5 linked regions of the Homo sapiens genome follow. The protein of the gene in region 4 purifies or fractionates together with the protein of the main gene of each other region. This does not show direct contact. Each region holds a gene or a part of one and is shown on either strand. Other genes may lie near its edges. The genes, in order: CCDC88A, BAG1, HSPBP1, METTL21A and NCALD.

What was found.
Region 1: the proteins of METTL21A (region 4) and CCDC88A purify together in Homo sapiens (affinity purification with mass spectrometry, with the first as the bait; one study listed by BioGRID). This does not show direct contact.
Region 2: the proteins of METTL21A (region 4) and BAG1 purify together in Homo sapiens (affinity purification with mass spectrometry; one large-scale study listed by BioGRID and IntAct). This does not show direct contact.
Region 3: the proteins of METTL21A (region 4) and HSPBP1 purify together in Homo sapiens (affinity purification with mass spectrometry; 3 studies listed by BioGRID and IntAct, with this or other methods). This does not show direct contact.
Region 5: the proteins of METTL21A (region 4) and NCALD purify together in Homo sapiens (affinity purification with mass spectrometry, with the first as the bait; one study listed by BioGRID). This does not show direct contact.

Annotation. Positions count from the first base shown.
Region 1 is NC_000002.12:55,287,329-55,290,862, forward strand, and holds the end of CCDC88A (girdin), read right to left. Parts: 3' UTR 514-3,534; downstream 1-513. UniProt on the Homo sapiens protein: Bifunctional modulator of guanine nucleotide-binding proteins (G proteins). Acts as a non-receptor guanine nucleotide exchange factor which binds to and activates guanine nucleotide-binding protein G(i) alpha subunits.
Region 2 is NC_000009.12:33,258,206-33,261,724, forward strand, and holds part of BAG1 (BAG family molecular chaperone regulator 1), read right to left. Parts: intron 2,965-3,519; coding exon 2,882-2,964; intron 829-2,881; coding exon 715-828; intron 1-714. UniProt on the Homo sapiens protein: Co-chaperone for HSP70 and HSC70 chaperone proteins. Acts as a nucleotide-exchange factor (NEF) promoting the release of ADP from the HSP70 and HSC70 proteins thereby triggering client/substrate protein release.
Region 3 is NC_000019.10:55,273,592-55,277,110, forward strand, and holds part of HSPBP1 (hsp70-binding protein 1), read right to left. Parts: intron 1,032-3,519; coding exon 807-1,031; intron 1-806. UniProt on the Homo sapiens protein: Inhibits HSPA1A chaperone activity by changing the conformation of the ATP-binding domain of HSPA1A and interfering with ATP binding. Interferes with ubiquitination mediated by STUB1 and inhibits chaperone-assisted degradation of immature CFTR.
Region 4 is NC_000002.12:207,618,891-207,622,409, forward strand, and holds part of METTL21A (protein N-lysine methyltransferase METTL21A), read right to left. Parts: intron 3,028-3,519; coding exon 2,916-3,027; intron 1,901-2,915; coding exon of another isoform or gene 1,851-1,900; exon of another isoform or gene 1,805-1,850; coding exon of another isoform or gene 1,751-1,804; intron 1-1,750. UniProt on the Homo sapiens protein: Protein-lysine methyltransferase that selectively trimethylates residues in heat shock protein 70 (HSP70) family members. Contributes to the in vivo trimethylation of Lys residues in HSPA1 and HSPA8.
Region 5 is NC_000008.11:101,721,459-101,724,977, forward strand, and holds part of NCALD (neurocalcin-delta), read right to left. Parts: intron 1-3,519. UniProt on the Homo sapiens protein: May be involved in the calcium-dependent regulation of rhodopsin phosphorylation. Binds three calcium ions.

The sequences.
Region 1 (3,534 bases), about 150 Mb from region 4:
GTTTGTACCAAGTTGTGTTACTAAAAGGCAAAATAAAAGTAATGACTTTATTCTAAGGTTCCTCTTAGTTTTTACATACTCGGTATTCTATCTCTAACACAAAGTAGCCGTTTTAGGTTGCTTTGCATATGAAATGAAGGTACTAATGAATACACAGAAATTAAGTACCTTAGGTATCTGGTCTAATTGCCCTCCCCACCTTATAGTGAAAACAGGCCCAGAAAAACTGACCAGCCCAAGGATGAGGCCAGTTCCTTTGTCTCCCAAAGTCTAAGTGAAAATGGGAGATTCATTTGTGCAATCTATTAGATTACATTTAAACCTATTTTGGGACTGATAAAATTGACAGATGCTCTTTCTCTCCAAACCCCTAATACTTATCACAAAATGATATGACAGAATCAACTAAACAAGGTCATGGGTTATGTCTGACGATAGTTCTCTAGGGAAAATGGAAAGAAATAAAATAACACTTGGCTAAAATGATATCATTTTTAAATGATTACTAACCAGTTGTTACAAAAATCACCTCTTGGTTTTATTTCTTTTTATATTAGTTTGATACGTGAATGTTAGTCCAACTTAATTTTTGAAGGAGAAACAAAATGAAAAATGTTTTTTAAAAAACAAACAGTGGTATCTCTTGTCATGAGTTGGATGCCTGTGACTGACATCAGGTATTGCCAAGTAATAAACATTTTGCCATTCAACTCTAAATCCCTTATTAGCATTAGTTTTAAAGGAAATGTTACAGCTTTTATATTATTTGATTTGGTATTTAATAACAGTTATAAGTACAATGGTAGACACTGAAAAAGAAAACCCTTAATAGAAAAGAAAAAGACAATTTAAAATTAGATTTTGTTGAAGGGTGTTATAAGTGCAACTTTATCCATATGCATTCCTTTTAAGGCATTTTCATTGTCCAAATATCTCAACATGTACATCAAGGTTTATATTATAAAATGGGCTCCTTTTGTATTCATTCAAGACTTAAAGAAAAAATACATCTCAGGACTAAGTGTAGCTGAAAAGAAAAACACAAAAATTCACCACTCACAAAAAGTAACTTAAAATACAAAAGTCATTTAGTATACATTATTACTCCCCATTGTAATTCCAGATTTGGTACAGTATCTTTTTCATTTCCTGACATAAACCATTAAGACAGCACAGGCTGTAGTACTTCATTGTGAGGTGGCTACAACTCTATAATATGCACAGTGATTTTAAAATAGGCTTTTTGCATGCCTTGCATGAAAGGTGCTACATACAAACCTGTTTTGTGAACTCTTTGGTAACCACCAATTTAAAAATTTGGATGAAAGCATTTCCACATGGACAGATCTGAAGCACATTATTGGAGCTCTGAGCCAAAGCTATTACCCTGTATATTGATTCTTCAGTTTCCTTGAGGGGTTAGGTGTTGATTTAGAATACAGCCAGATAATTTAAAGCATGTCAGGCCCCGGTTAGGAAAATGAAAATGGCTCCGATTCGTTTCCAGTTGGCTTTATTATTGTTTGGCAGAAGTTGTTTAGGGGAGAAGAGTGGCTTCCTACAAAGTTTGCTTCTCAAGGTATACTGGAGAAAGTAAAATATTCATGTGGTTACTACTGTCTAGTCGTTTCTTGAAATGGTATGAAAAAAGTGTGATGAATATAATTGAGATTATTCATATTTTTGTAGTCTCAATGTGTTCCCTTGGTTGTCTCTTTAATTGTCCCTTCTCAGGGTCAGCCTACTCAGATTCAGTACTTTACACGTTGTTTTCAGCATTTTCTGCTTGAAGCACTAATGCACTTAACCCAGCATGTTCTGTATTTTAGGATATTAGTGTTCTGGAGAGGTCAAGCTGTAATGTCATTCGCCCTCATTGGGCTACATCACCACCCATTAAATTTCAGCTTTTCAGTAATTGTTCTGGGATGTGTTCTAGTTGTGCAAATTAGATGCTAGCTAATATAAATCTAAGTTACCCACTAACTGTATTTAGCCATAACATAATTTCTATGTTTACTTTTATCCACCTAAAAATGAATGTACATTTTTTGACATGCAATTGTCTCTAGACTGCTCTGATACCTATTACCAATGTGCTACTTGAATCCAGGGAGTTATGAGAGAGAGAGATGTTTCAAAGTCTACGGAAAAGGTTTTAGATATTTCTGTTGTGCATTATTTTTGTATGTTAGTAAGAATCCTTTGTATTTCCATTTACATAGCACCTTTCATCCAAGATTTTCAAAATGATTTAACGTTAACAGCATTTGGTGGTAAAACCTAAGTTACCGGTGGCATTGAAGTACGTAAGTAAGCTCAAGTTCTCTAAGTTCCATTTCAATTTAAACATGCTCTCTTTTTTATTGATGGTCTTTTGGAAATTAGACTGTGAACACAACATTGCTACTGGCCTACGAAAGAGAGAGAGAAAGAGGGAGAGAGAAAGAGAGAGAGAGAGAGAGAGAGAGAGAGACTTTTCTTATGGTTACTGGGTTAGTGATGAAACCCACAACTCATAAACCACACACTATGGAATATGGAATTATTCCAAAAAGTTCTTCAGAGCTGGTAATGAAAGCCTAAGAAGTACACTGTTAAAATTTTAAAAAGTCAGTATGTTTCTCATTTCAGACCTTGAAGATTACTCTGATATTGATGTTAAATAATGAATTTGCATTAATGAGTATCAATGCATTTTTTGATTTCATAAGAAAATAAAACTGTGATATAAAATTGGAACTACTAAAAAAATTGATGTTTCCCTGGGTTAACTAAATCTATTTTTTTGTGCTTCTTCCAAATGTTTAAAGGTAACAAATGCATACAAATATTTCAAAAGTACCAATAACAGTTATCAACTTTAATGTAATATCATAAAGGAGAAAAAAATCATTAATAAATGATAGCCTTAATTATAAATGAGTTTCTGGCAAAATGCAGATCATAGTAACTTATTTACATTATTTTTGCCATAAGAAAACTTCTTAAGCAACAGTCAGCTCTCAAGTTAAAAAAATGCACACGCATACATAACCCAATACCAAAGAAAAGAAATGAGTTAAAGCACAACAGCTTTATCTTGGGAATGCCATTTGCTGAAAAACCATCTTACTAAAAAAAAGTTTCAGAAAAACACTCTTTACCATGGGTTAACTTATGAATGCTTAGTGTTGCTTAATGGGAAATATGGAAAGATTAATATCACTATAAATTTTTTATAACTCCTATTTCATTATGGATTTTTCAGATTTATCTTATAAACTGAATTTCTTTTGCATCAAAATAATTGGCTTTAAGAAAAAAAAAGTATCAACACATGCAGTCTGCTAACCAAATAAGGCTCTGACATGCCAAAACAATTTTCTCTGTATCTTGCTATATAGTACATTCCACAAAATACTACAGCATTTAATTTAGGTTTACACAACTAAATATAAATGGCTAGATTTTGGCTAACACTTAGCAGAAGCATTAAGCAAACATGGATAAATTCATAAAACAAATGATGAAAAAAGCAGATTGTTCTTGGAG
Region 2 (3,519 bases), on a different chromosome or scaffold from region 4:
GAATCACTTGAACCTGGCAGGCAGAGGCTACAGGGAGCCACTGAGATTGCACCACTGCACTCCAGCCTGGGTGACAGAGCGAGACTCCATATCAAAAAAAAAAAAAAAAAAAAAAAAGCCAAAACACAAACACACCCCAATTAATGCTATAAAATGAGAGGGAAAAATAAATAAAAGTGGTCTTGAGCTAGTCCTAATCCTTACTGGGTTTTAGTACCCCATCTCTAATATAAGGAATTGAATAGGATGACTCCCCCAACCCCACTATCATGTTCAACTTGGACCTTCTATGAACCAACAAAATGTTATTTGCCTTGCCAAACACATTACAACAGCCCAGAGAGAAGCTACTTGTTCTATTTCAGACAATACATGATCCTAGCAAGGCAGGTGCTCTCCTGTGAGCATAAATGGATGCTGGCTGGGGTTTGACAATAACTATGACAATAAATGCTTATAAAGCACTTAGTATGTGTCAAGCTCAATCTACATTATTTAATTCTCCCAACAATCCTAATAGGGAAATGTCACCATTATTCCATTTTTACAGATGAGGAACTTGAGACAAAGATAAACTTGTTCACAGTAAGAGAAAGGGTGAATCCAGGATCTGAACCCAGGGAGTCTGACTGCAGAACATGTCCCCATAACCACAAGTTATATCCAGGAAGCTCTGATAGAAGGCAGAAAGTTAAGGTCCATGAAGAGAGTTACCTGCTGGATTCCAGTAAGCTCTTTATTCAACTCTTCCAGCTGGTCAGCTATCTTCTCCACAGACTTCTCCAAATGTTTCAACTTCTTTAGTTCAACCTCTTCCTGTGGACTGTTCTAAAATGTTTAAGAAGAAAATAAAGCCAATAGTCAAAAAGAACAGGCTGGGCATGGTGGCTCATGCCTGTAATCCCAGCACTTTGGGAGGCCGAGATGGGCAGATCATTTGAGGTCAGGAGTTCAAGACCAGCCTGGCCAACATGGTGAAACACTGTCTCTACTAAAAAAACAAAAAAATTAGCCAGGCATGCTGGCGTGCACCTGTAGTCCTAGCTACTCGGGAGGCTGAGGCAGGAGTATAGCTTGAACCTGGGAGGTGGAGGTTTGTAGTGAGCTGAGATCGTGCACCTGTACTCCAGCCAGGGTGACAGAGCGAGACTGTCTCAAAAAAAAAAAAGAAAAAAGAAAAAGCAATCAACAAGAACAGCAGCCTCTGTCAGGAAAAATACCTGACCACACCTGCATGAAGCCACTCACCTAGAAATAACAGTTTTAACTCTGTTGCTTCTTGGAAATCAAGTCAAAGGGTTATACATCAAGTTTTCCATCTACAAAGACTCCAGACTAGAGAGAAGGTGTTAGGTAAACATTCTGGTGAGGGCCCTGACAGCTTGGGTGCAGAGAATGGAGACAATCCAAGTGCCAGATTCAGTCTCAGCCCTATACTGATCAACAACCAAGACTGAAGCCTGGAGGGTAATCACATTTCAGTAAACACTTGTGAGGAGTCCAGAATGGCAAGAAAGGTGGAATTCTACCATTCCTTTAAATGGAATTCCTAAATGGCAGCCTCCAATTGAGCGCTCCTGTTTAATGTGATGCTGGTTAACAACGATGAATACTTTTATTGAACACTTCCTACATGCCACACACTATCCTAAGCACCTTACCTATTTTTTAAGCCTTACCACAACTCCATCAGGGAAGTACTGCTGTTTTACAGATGATGAAACTGAGGCTTAATGTAGTAAAGTAACATGAGATCACACAGTCCAAAAGAGGTAGATTAGACTTAAGTTCAGACTTTTTTCTTTTTTGAGATAGGGTCTCACTACGGTTCCCAGGTTGGAGTGCAGTGGCTGTTTACAGGCATGATCATAACTCACTGCAGCCTCAAACCCCTGGACTCAAGTGATCCTCCTGTCTCAGACTCCCAACTTGCTGGGACAATAGGCATGTGCCATGGTGCCTTCCTTGAGTTCACACTTCGCTCCATACGCTCTGTGTCAGCTCCAAGTAAAAGTCCTATAGTTTCTTCAAACTTGACTCTTTGGTTCTGCCTGTTGCCCATCACCATTCTCCCTGACCCTGAAGCAAGAAATTTAGAATATTTCCCTCTTCTCTCAGGTAAACAATTGATAGATAGGTCTAGCAGCTTTCTGCTTAGTTATGCTATCCCAAATTATTCACTTCTCTTTGTGGCAAGTCCTGAGTTCCAGTCTCCTGGCAGTTCCAAGTCTGGATTAGATTTTTTTTGCCTTCACTTTGTTTATCTGCCCTCTCTCTACTCAGCCACCTAACTCACAATAAGGGAACTTCATATGCTCATAATTCTGCTGTGTCACAATGCAGGGCTGGCCACAGCCCTCTCTCATCACCTTAAGGGTTGCTGACCTCATCTGTCTTTTTTTCCCCTCAGTTCTTTAGTCTGAACCTTCCTTTCCAGTCGAAGGTTTTCCCTTGTGGGAGATTTTAGTTAAAAGGTTGGTTAAAGGGAGAGAGGCTCCTGAACTGGAACAGAGTGATTATTCTTAATATCTACAAGTTTATTTTAACAAAAGACTCTTGCAAATTCTACTCCAAGTGAATGAGACCTGTCCCAGGCACCATTTTAACCAGACCAAGATTCCACCACCAAAACAAAAAACATATTATTAAGGCAGCACAACCGCTCCTAATTCCTAGAGCAAAAGTTCTAACCAACAGGAGCAGGAGGGTATGAGAACAACAAAACTGGTAATCCTGTAAAACCAATAAAGATTGTATTTGTTTAGAGAGGTGTTTTATCAATGCAGAATCTGGGTCCCCAGTTTGGTCTTCTAAACAGAAACATGTATAAAAGACTTCAGTCATTTGATTCTGAGGATTTCTGATGGAAAAAGCAATTTACCTTTTTCCCAATTAACATGACCCGGCAACCATCTTGTATTCCAAGTGCTGACAACGGTGTTTCCATTTCCTTCAGAGATTTTCCTAAAAAGAGGAGAAAGGTAGGCCAAGTTGTAATAATTGTACAACACTGAAAATAAATTTCAGCAGGATACAGGAAATAGACAAGTGTGTTCACTAATGAGAACTGGTATCTTTTTAGAGGGTGTCATGACCCAGTAATTTCATTTCCAGATATTTATCCTAAACAAATAATTGGACATGCGACTCCACAGTAACTACTATACGATAATATTCAGTGCAACCTTTTCATAATAGTGAGAAACTGGAAAGAGCCAAATATTCAGGAATCAGGGACCAACGAACCACACTACAGAAGACTTTAAAGTCTTCAGTAGGCATTAAGGTCTACAGTAGCCATTAAAGCTCATTTTTTGCAGGAAACCCCAATACCACAATGAATGCTGATGACACAGTGTTATTATGAGGGGTTTTATCCAGGGGAACATTTTCTTTTTCATGCATTCCTCTATTTTGAAACATGAATTTCTATTGTCTTTATAATTCAGAAATAAAATATTTTTAAAAATTAAAGACAATATGTTACACTATGAAATATAAATAAAAATGCCTCCTATT
Region 3 (3,519 bases), on a different chromosome or scaffold from region 4:
GTTGGTTTTTGTCCCGTCCCTGTGCCCGACCTGGTGCCTGTGTCCCAGGCGGCAGTATTTGGGGGAGTCCTGGCCAGCTCTGCCCTATGGAGCTGCAGAAACCTGGCCGTGTCCCTCTGCCCACACCTCAGTTTCTTCCCCTGTCAAATGAGGATGCAAACGGTCCCTACTTCACAGGCCATTAGGATAAAAAGAATTTGTGGCTGGACATGGTGGATCACACCTGTAACCTCAACACTTTCAGAGGCCAAGGCGGGAGGATCCCTTGAGGCTAGGAGTTCAAGACTAGCCTGGGTAGCAAAGCAAGTCTTGTCTCTATATAGGTTAAATGAAAAAAAAAAGAAGAAGAAGAATTCATGTACAGCAGGGGTTCTGACCAAGGGGCTTTCTACATCTAGGGGCATTTGTGCGCTGGCAGGTGGGGTGATAGTGTCTCTCCATGGCCTGGAGGCCACCCACCAGATGCTGCTCAATGTCCTGTAGTGCACAGGACGGCCCCCGAGAGAGTGAACCAGCGCCAGTGTGAACAGTGCCCAGCTGAAAAACTGCTGTGTGCAAAGCGCTCACGCTGAGGGCCAGGTGGTCTCCCCGGGAAGTGGTCACATCTGCTGCCTGGCTAGCAGGGGGTTTGGCCGAGTGCGCCACTCACTCTGCCCGCAGCACTCAGCCGTGCAGGGGTCCAACAAGCATGGGAACAAACGAGGGAAGGAGATGCCTCTCCCTCTGCCCCAGCAGATCCCGGGGGCCCACCCGGCACCCCCCCCCACCGCCAGCACCCCTGTCCCCAGCCCCACCCGGACACTCACAGGAGATGGCGAAGAGGGCCTTGACGCGCACCGTGTCGCAGGCGTCGCGGTCCAGCAGCCGCAGCAGCTTACGCAGGGCACCCAGGCCCAGCACCTGCTCCTGGATGGCTGCCACGTTCTGACTGCACGTGCCGATGAGCTGTGCCGCCCGCCACCGCAGTCCCGCAGCCCCCGCCTCCAGGTACCGGCCCACCAGCAGGTGCATGCCAGACAGCTGGCAGAAGTCTGTGCCACAGAGGGGAGCAGAGAGAGGCCAGATGTTAGGGACTGAACCGTGCCCCCCAAAATGCATGGGTTGATGTTCTGACCCCCAGTACCTTGGAATGTGACTGTTTTTGGAGATGGGATCTTTAAAGAGATCATTAAGGTAAAATGAGGTCCTTAGGGTGGGCCCTAATGCAATCTGACTGGCGTCCTGATAAGAAGAAGAGATGAGGACACAGACACCCACAGAGGGACAACATGGAGGGAGGACACAAAAAATGCCTTCTGCAAGCCAAGGAGAGGGGGGCTCAGGAGAAACCAGCCCTGCCCACACCCTGATCTCAAACTTCTAGCCTCCAGAGCCGTGAGAAAATACATTTCTGTTTTTAAAGCCAGTAGTCTGTGGTGCTTGGCTAAGGTGGCCCTAAGCTGACCACTACAGCTGCTGAGGCCGGGAGAGCCAGGCCGGCTCCCACAGGGACGCAGCTCTCTCCAAACACCCAACCAGAGGTCCCCCCAAGGCTAGTACAACTCGATTCCATCAGCATTTGGGGCATTAGGGCCCCAGGCTCCAGACTACTAAATGCCAGGACTGATCCTGGTCTTTGTGACAATCTGAATGTCCCCAGGGTCAGCAAACCACAGCCCACCTCCTGTTTTTGTAAATAAAGTGGTATTGGAGAGCGTGGCAGTTCCTAAAAAAATGAAATACAGATTCCCCGTGACCCAGCAATTCCGCACCAAGGCACAGACCCAAAAGAACCAGAAGTAGGGACTCAGATACTTATATACTCAAGTTCATGGCAGCATCATTCATAAATGACCCAAATGTCCTTAAAGGATAAAGGGATAAATATAAACTGCTCTAGCCATACAACGGAGTATTACTCAGCCATAAAAAGGAATGAAGCAGCTGGGCGTGGTGGCTCAAGCCTATAATCCCAGCACTTTGGGAGGCCAGGGTGGGCAGATCACTTGAGGCCAGGAGTTCGAGACCAGCCCAGGTAACATAGCAAAACAGGGTTTTTGCTATGTTATATACTAAAAATACAAAAATGCCAGGCCTGGCCAGGTGCGGTGGCTCATGACTGTAATCCCAACACTTTGGGAGGCCAAGGTGGGTGGATCACGAGGTCAGGAATTCAAGACCAGCCTGGCCAACATGGTGAAACCTCATCTCTACTAAAAATACAAAAATTAGCTGGGCATGGTGGTGGGCGCCTATAAGCCCAGCTACTCAGAAGGGCAAGGCAGGAGAATCGTTTGAACCCGGGAGGCACAGGTTGCAGTGAGCTGAGATCGCGCCATTGCACTCTAGCCTGGGCAACAGGGTGAGACTCTGTCTCAGAAAAAAAAAAAAAAAAAATTTGCCAGGCCTGATGACATGCACCTGTAATCCCAGCTGTTTGGGAGGCTAAGGTATGAGAATCACTGAAACCCAGCAGGTGGAAGTTGCAGTGAGCTGAGATTGCACCACTGCACTCCAGCCTGGGAGACTGACTCAAAAAAAAAAAAAAAAAAAAAAGGAATAAAGCTCTGACACACGCCACAACATGGGCACGCCGCCTTTAGCACAATCAGCCAGACACAAAAGGTCACGTTATAATCATCTATATGAAATGTCCAGAACAGGCAAATTCATACAGCCAAAACGCTGATTAGTGGTTGCCAGGGGACCGGGGGAGGGCCGGCCTAATGGGTGCTGGGTCTCCTTTGCAGGCAATGGAAAAGTTCTGGAAATAGAGGTGGTGTTGCACAACATTCTGAATTGACTGTAAGTGGTATAAACAGTCATATGGGAGGATGTTCCCCTCAGCCCACCTTCATCAGCACTGTGCATCTTCATTAAGACAGAGAAGATACACATATATATTTATATTTATATACACAGAGAGCGCACGAGGCCAGGGAGGAAGTGGTATCTTTGGCTTTCGTTCTCATTTGATTACTAATAAGGTGTAAAATTGCTGCTGCTGTGATGATTGGACACTCAGCACAGTGCTTAGCACACAGCAGCTGCTCAACAGATATTTCCTGAACAAGCAAAAAATGAATGAAAGAGCAAAGTCGTTAAAAGCCATCCTGCGGATTGGAGCAGGAGTTCTCTGCCCGGATAAGACGGGGAGACACTGGGGAAAGGTAAGCTAGAGGGTGGCGGCTGCACTGCAGGTCTTCTCGGGGTGCTGCATGCGCTCACAGAGGAGGGCTTCCCAAACTCCGTCCAGCCCCTGTCCAAAATGAAGACACCTGACTCCCAGGCCTGACACGTTACGTTTACTCTGTGCCTGGTGTTGTGCGGGCCTGGGGGTTTCTCTCGGCCCAGCCTGCGTACAAGAGGAAGTAATCAGGACCTGCCCAAACCAGACTGCCATGTAGCAGCACAGCCTGAACTATGAACCAAGGAAGTGACACCCCAAATCCACACCCTCAATTGCTACACCACCCAACCCCTCCAAATGGAAGTGAGCTCTCCTCAAACCTTCTGTGAGCTCTGCTGCTTGGAGTAAAA
Region 4 (3,519 bases):
TTTCAAACTAAGAACGAGGATTTGAGAGTCAGATTGGATTCAAATTCTAAGCACAATCCATTAGCTTTGTGACCTCAGGCAAGTTACTTACCCTCCAAGAAGCCTCCCTTTCACCACTGGAAGGGCGCTATAAGTAGGTAAGGCCTACTTACCATGCAGGGTGACTGTGAGAATGAAAGGGTGTAATGCACAGTCCTCAGAACACAGGAACTACTCAGGAATTAGCAGCTGGTTTTTAACAGGAAAGTCTCATCACCCTATATTAATATCTACATAGCACCGCTTTTTTTTTTTTTTTTTAATCTTCTTTCTTTACCTCTACCCACTAAACTCAGAACGTAAGCTTCCGGAGACACCTGCCAGCCTGTTTATTGCCCCATCCACAGTGGACCGCCAGGCTTCTGGTGGGTTCTCCCCAAATTCAGGAATAAATGACTAAGGTTACAAAAAGAGAATATACTTTAAAAAGAATAATAATTAATCTCTTCCTGACATTTCAAAATCACTACCTATTCTAGTACTCACTGATTCTATTTTGAAGAGACTAACATTTTCTTACCCTCAGGCTCCAACAGCAAAACTTCTCCAACCTAACACTTTGTAGTGACTACAAATAGTGAGTATGAAAATCATACAGTAGCAGAGAAATGCTTATGACATAATGTGAAAACATCATTTGTATAGGTGTGTGTATACGGATACACAAAACACACATACGCAGACATATATATTTACATATATATAATCATAATTACAACTATGATTAAAAATACAGATGGAGAGAAACAAAACATACCAAAATGCTAATGGTAACTCTGGTGGTATCTGAAATATCTTATTCTGACTTTCCCAACCCCAGAGAACCAGATTGCTAGATCAGAAAAAGCAGTTACTCAGAGAGTAATCAACACTCGTGGAGCACTTCCTTTGTGTCACTCAGTGAGCCAGCAGATGTTATACACGCAATCTCATTGGTTCCTCACTGTGGAGTAAATATTACTATTATGCACAATGTACAGATGGGGTAATCAATGTTTAAAGGTTAAGCAACTTGCCCAAGGTCACACGACTAGTAAGAATGAAAAGAAATGTCAAAACCAAGTATAACTAAGCCTATGCACTTTGCTACACTAACATGTCTATACACCAGCCAAGAAAGTTTTGCATGAAGCCCTGGTTCTCAGGAGGAAACAGAAGAAACCTCATTTCCCCTTATAGTAACTCTTATATCAGCAGAGAGAGAAGTTGGTGTTACAGAAAAAAATAAAACAGGCCAGGCACGGTGGCTCACTCCTGTAATCCCAGCACTTTGGGAGGCCAAGGTGGGCAGATCACCTGAGGTCAGGAGTTCGAGACCAGCCTGGCCAACATGGTAAAACCCCATCTCTACCAAAAATAAAAAATTAGCTGGGCGTGGTGGCACATGCCTGTAGTCCCAGCTACTAGGGAAACTAAGGCAGGAGAATTGCTTGAACCCGGGAGGCGGAGGTTGCAGTGAGCCGAGATCATGCCACTGCACTCCAGCCTGGGCAACAGAGTGAGACTCCATCTCAAAAAATAAATAAATAAAATAAAATAAAATAAAATAAAATAAAACAACTAACTGTGTCTAACAAGCCTGGTTTTGAGTCCCAGATCTCCAGTGATCAGGACTTCAGAAAGTAGCTTCATCTCCCAGAATCCCAGCTTTGTTTGAAAAATGAAAATTAAAAATAATACCTAACATACACGGGAATGTTCTAAGGCTCACCTGAAAAGAATAAAAGGCAGTGTACCAGCAAGGGCTTCATCGATGACTTAAGTGCTGTGGTTGAAGACGGACGGAAACCTCTGTCAATTTACACAGACTTTCAACCACCACCCCTGCCCATGCTCCCTGTCGAATTTTGGAAAGCAGCAGCTAAGCAGAAAAAGAAATAGTGAAAAAGTATTGGGTTTCTGGAAAACAGGCAGGACAAAAGAGGGGCTTTAGCTGGTCCTCAAATATCTGTAGACAATGCGATGGGTTTAGAATACTCTGGAATCCTGGATCCTTCCTACCCAAGTGTAGTCTGAGAACCAGCAGTGTCGGCATCACTACTGACATTTCTACTGCTTGTTAGAAATGCAGGTTCCCAGGCCCTGGTCCAGCCCTGCCAAATCAGAATCTGCATTTTAACAAGAGCACCAGGTGACAATATGGAAGTGATAAACATTATACATTGTATCTTGAAAGCTGGTCTACCCTTATGATTAGATAGCTTGAACTATATATGTCAGAAGTTATAGAAATGAGTCAATAGTCAATAATAAAAATAACAATGAAGCCTAAAAATGCTCTAGCTCCAAGCCTCAATTAATGTGTGTATACCAAATTTTAAAATGACAAACTTTGATATCAAGTCAGAACTGTATACTGTTCATACAATTTTAAAAATAAGAAGTCAGTACAAACTATAGTGGGGGCTAGCCCTCCCTACAAGAGAAAAACCAGCAAAGTTTCCTCAGCAATGAAGAAAAGACTATCTGCTCTATCTCCCTCACAGGGTTAAATCAGATAGTGTATGGGAAAGAAAGCCCCTGAATGTGAAAAAAACTCTATACATGGGTAAGATTATTCTCCTTGAATCAACTCACTTTAAGATCGTATTATTGGCATCACAGAATTGAAGGGGGCAGAGCAATCTCCCATGGGAAGTATAAATAACAGAGTGTGTGTGTGTGTGAGAGAGAGAGACAGAAATTAGAGAGAGAGAAATTAGCCCGTTAGCCTCACTGGAGTTAAGAACCCCAGCAGTTGGCCCACAACTCATAAGTATAAGCAAAAGATAATAACCCAGTAAGGGGAAAACCCACGAAGGGTTTTGCGCTAAGAAAACAGCAAATGCACCTCTCAATGAGTTCTGCTCACTAAGGAGTCAATGCATGACACTCACCCAGCAGGGCAGCCACTATGCCCACCAGCCCCGTGCCAGCACCCAGCTCCACGGCAGAGCGGCCCCTGAGCTCCACAGCTCCCATCTCCAGGTATGTGGAAAGAACGATGGCCTGAATGAAAACACAGTGTGATGACGATTAAGGTCAACATGTGCTTGAGTAGCTGCAGGGTTTCAGGTCAGCTACACCCACCCCTCTCCCACTTCGAGGTTCAATTCCCAGCTTAACAACACACACAGGAACTTAGCTGGTGCAGCAAGGTAACCTCCCCCTTAGAGCAAGCACAGGGTCCCACAGCAGTGCCCAGAGATGATGCCCACACTAAATGGGGTCCTGCTGGATCTGGAAAGCTTAATTTTTTTTTTTTTTTTTTTTTGAGATGGAGTCTCAGTCCATCTGTCACCCAGGCTGGAGTGCAGTGGCACAATCTCAGCTCACTGCAACCTCCACCTCCCAAGCTCAAGCGATTCTCCCACCTCAGCACCCCCAGTAACTGGGACACAGGCGTGCACCACCACACCCAGCTAATTTTTGTAGTTTTTTTGGTAGAGATGGGGTTTTGCCATGTTGGCCAAGCTGGTCTTGAACTCCTGAGCTCCTGCG
Region 5 (3,519 bases), on a different chromosome or scaffold from region 4:
GAAAAGGAGGCTCACTGCCAGAAGCACGGGGGCTTGGTTTTCAGAACGCTATTTTACACACTGAAAACTATCTGGTGGTTAAGACTTGAGCTTAGGATCTCTTATATTGAATTTAGTGAGGCCTGTCTGGTGGCCTCACTAAAAATAAACTTCTACGGGGTGGTGTTTGTATCTCACGCTACTCAAACTGCTTGCATAATACTCATGGTTCAGATAATGACCAGCAATCCTCATTCATTGCCAAGTTTATTGATTTTGTTTTCTGACTTCTGCACTGGAGGCAAAACCTGCCCTGCTCATATGCAGGTGTCCAAAGTGATGGGAGTATGGGGCACTTCACCTATGAGTATGGCCAACTGCTGTAGGAAGGAACTTACTTTTTGGGTTCCCCCTGCCTTTTTTTTTTTTTTTAAGACTCTGTCACTCAGGCTGCAATGTGCTGGTGCAATCATGGCCCACTGCAGCCTCAAACTCTTGAGTTTAAGCAATCCTCCTGCCTCAGCCTCCCAAATAGCTGGTATTACAGGTGTGTACCACCATGCCTGGCTAAATTTTTTATTTTTTGTAGAGATGGGGGTCTCACTTTGTTGCCTAGCCTGGTCTCAGACTCCTGGGCTCATGCCGTCTTCCAAATTGCTGGGATTGCAGGCATGAGCCACCACGCTTGGCCCAGAGTTCCCTCTTTAGGCAGAATCAAGCAAACACCATTTTATGCAAAAGCAAAATTCAACTGCAACTCAAATGGAGAACAAATGGAATTTATAAATTGAACAGTCTAATATCTTTCACTTCCCTCTGTGTCCTTTTTTTCCCCTGGAGATTAAAAAAACAGAGTTACAGAGGCTGGTTTGTATTAGAATTGTAAAGCTGTCATTTAGTTGCTAAGTTGGCAATTTGCCTGAGGCCAGAATTCAGAAACATCCGGTAATACATAATACCCGGCTTTCTAGAGCTCTGAGACATTTTATGGAATTTACAAGTAATTTCAAGTTTTCCTTTTGGGGAGTTCTTTAGAATATATCTCTTTGGTGTGGTTTTCAATCAAATCACCATTTTTACAGTTTGTGCAAATTGCTGCTTGCCTGGCCTTGGGGAAAAATGCCATTCTGATATTTAAATCTACTCTCTTAAAGAATGATTTATGTCTCCAATGTATAAAGCACTGTTTCTTCACAACCAAACTTAAGTGCCTTTCCCAGTGTTTAAAAAGTGCTTCAAATTTATTAGCTGCTTTTGCACTAGAAACAAATTGCCTCAACATTTTAGCTAAGTCTCCCACTGAGACTGATCTGTGTGCAGCTATTTTTTGGTAAACAGTAATTAAACCACATTTACAAATTCATCAGCACAGAAAGGCCATAACACAAACAAGTCAGAAAAGCATGGAATAAGTTATTGGGAAAACGAGTGTTCACAATTAAGCCTAGAATTCATCTACAAACACTTTACTAAGTATGAGGACTAAACTTGAGACACCATCTGGACTTGGTTAGATGGTACAACACAAATCTTAGGGGACATTTGACAGAGTTTCATTCCTTAGGTGGTGAGGAGGAAGACAGAGGGAAGCCTGACAATACCTTTTTCTTTGGGAAGACAGGAATTTCTGCCCGTTTGAGTCGAAGGGATGGGGCAGGATAACATTAGGGAAATGCTACAGTAATTGGCAGTTAAGAGAAAAACAGTTTGGAGACAAAAATTGCACCTTGGGTCAAATCGTTTTCATAACTCCAGTCAGTCATTAAAACATTTATTTTGTGCTAGTTGAACATAGGTATGACAGGCTGTCTTTTAATAATTTTTTCTCTATTAAGTTAATTGCAGTATTATTTCACCGTCGCCATTTACATTTACTTTTCAGGTATCAGAGACTTATTGCTTTAAGTAGCAAATTACCTAAATTATGAACACATATTTTCAAAACACAAAATTGAGTTCAAAATTACCAAGTGTATATATACTGTGCAGAAGATTAAAAAAACTGAATTAGCATATATTTCTTTTCTAAAGTTCCTATGAAGAACTTACACTCTCCTATACTATCAATCCATTCTGTATATTTAAAATAACATTTGTTTTTATTTAAATAGTCAAAAATATAATGGCTTACACTTTTGTAAGACTAACCAATAAAAAAAGGACTCCAATTTTAAACCAATCCCTGAAACCAAAGCATCAAATATTTTAATATTAGTTCAATATTTCTACATAGCACAATAAGGTTTTCGCAAACAGTAACTCAAAGTTTTGTCTTTATTTTTAATCACGGGAATGGCCTACAATTCAGATAAGCCCACAAATTCATACTATCTTATAAACAGCAGTAACATTAATATAAACAATGTTAATTCAGTTATCTTAGGGGCCTTACCATATCATTAACCTATTTACAGAACAAAAATGTTTCTATGAAAGCTAATATATCTTTTCATGTTTGTTTGTTGTTAAGTGTGCTACAACAGAAATAGAGGTAGAATCACATTTTTCTTAAGTAACACTCTATAAGCCAATTCTACACAATTAAGGCATTTTTGCAATCTAAAATAGTAATGCTAATACTGCTTCAGTAAACTAGATTTACTAATTTAAGAATCCTAAGAAATTACGTATATGTGACTTTCAGACATCCATGTTAAACTACCAACTAATCAAGTTGTGGAACTGTTGTTCTCTGCTCACACTTAACATTCTTGAATGACCATAAAGTGGATAATGCTAAAATTTTTTCTAATCACAGTTTTTCTTATAAGTGACTATATGATATTTTACCATTTCTAAGAGGAAAAAATGAGACCTACTTGGCAGTCTGCATAGGCTGGTGGAAACTATAATCAGAGTGTAAAGACAAATCTTCAAGTGACTCAAAAAAGTTTGTAGATAACTCAGAATATAATCTGTTGGGAACTATGACACGTTGGCCTCCTGGATGTCCTGTTGGATGAACACTGGAAAAACACTAGAATAAAAATGCTTGGCTTCAAAGCCTGGCTCTATTGTTTACTAGCTGGTGGGTAATTCACTTAACATTTTGGTTCTCCTCAGTTTTCTCATCTGTAAAATGAGTTTAATGATATGAGTTCATCTCTTATTGATTCCATGTGAGAGTTAAATGAGACAGTCAAACATGTAAAGCTCTGGCATTCAGTCAGGGCCAGACGCTGCCATAAATGAAAATGATGCCTTATCCTAGATGATCTTTCATGTGACATCCTATTAAACTTTCACAACCTGTGTGATAGGCAGGCAGGCTTTCTCTATCTCATAAGCAAATAAATGAAAACTCAGAGAGGCTAGGTGACTTATTCCAGGTGACACTGCTTGTGAATGAGAGAGCCTAACTGTGAGTGTGGGCTGCTGCTTGGTTGCCCAGTGGTTTTAGCCCTATGCTCTACTAGCCCCAAGGACAAAGCATTTATAGAGATTAAGACAACAATCCATAAAAAGTCAGAAAGAAGTAGTGAAGAAGAAGGAGACAACCTCCTTTTGGAACTCATTTATTCCACAAACAGGCACTAAGTG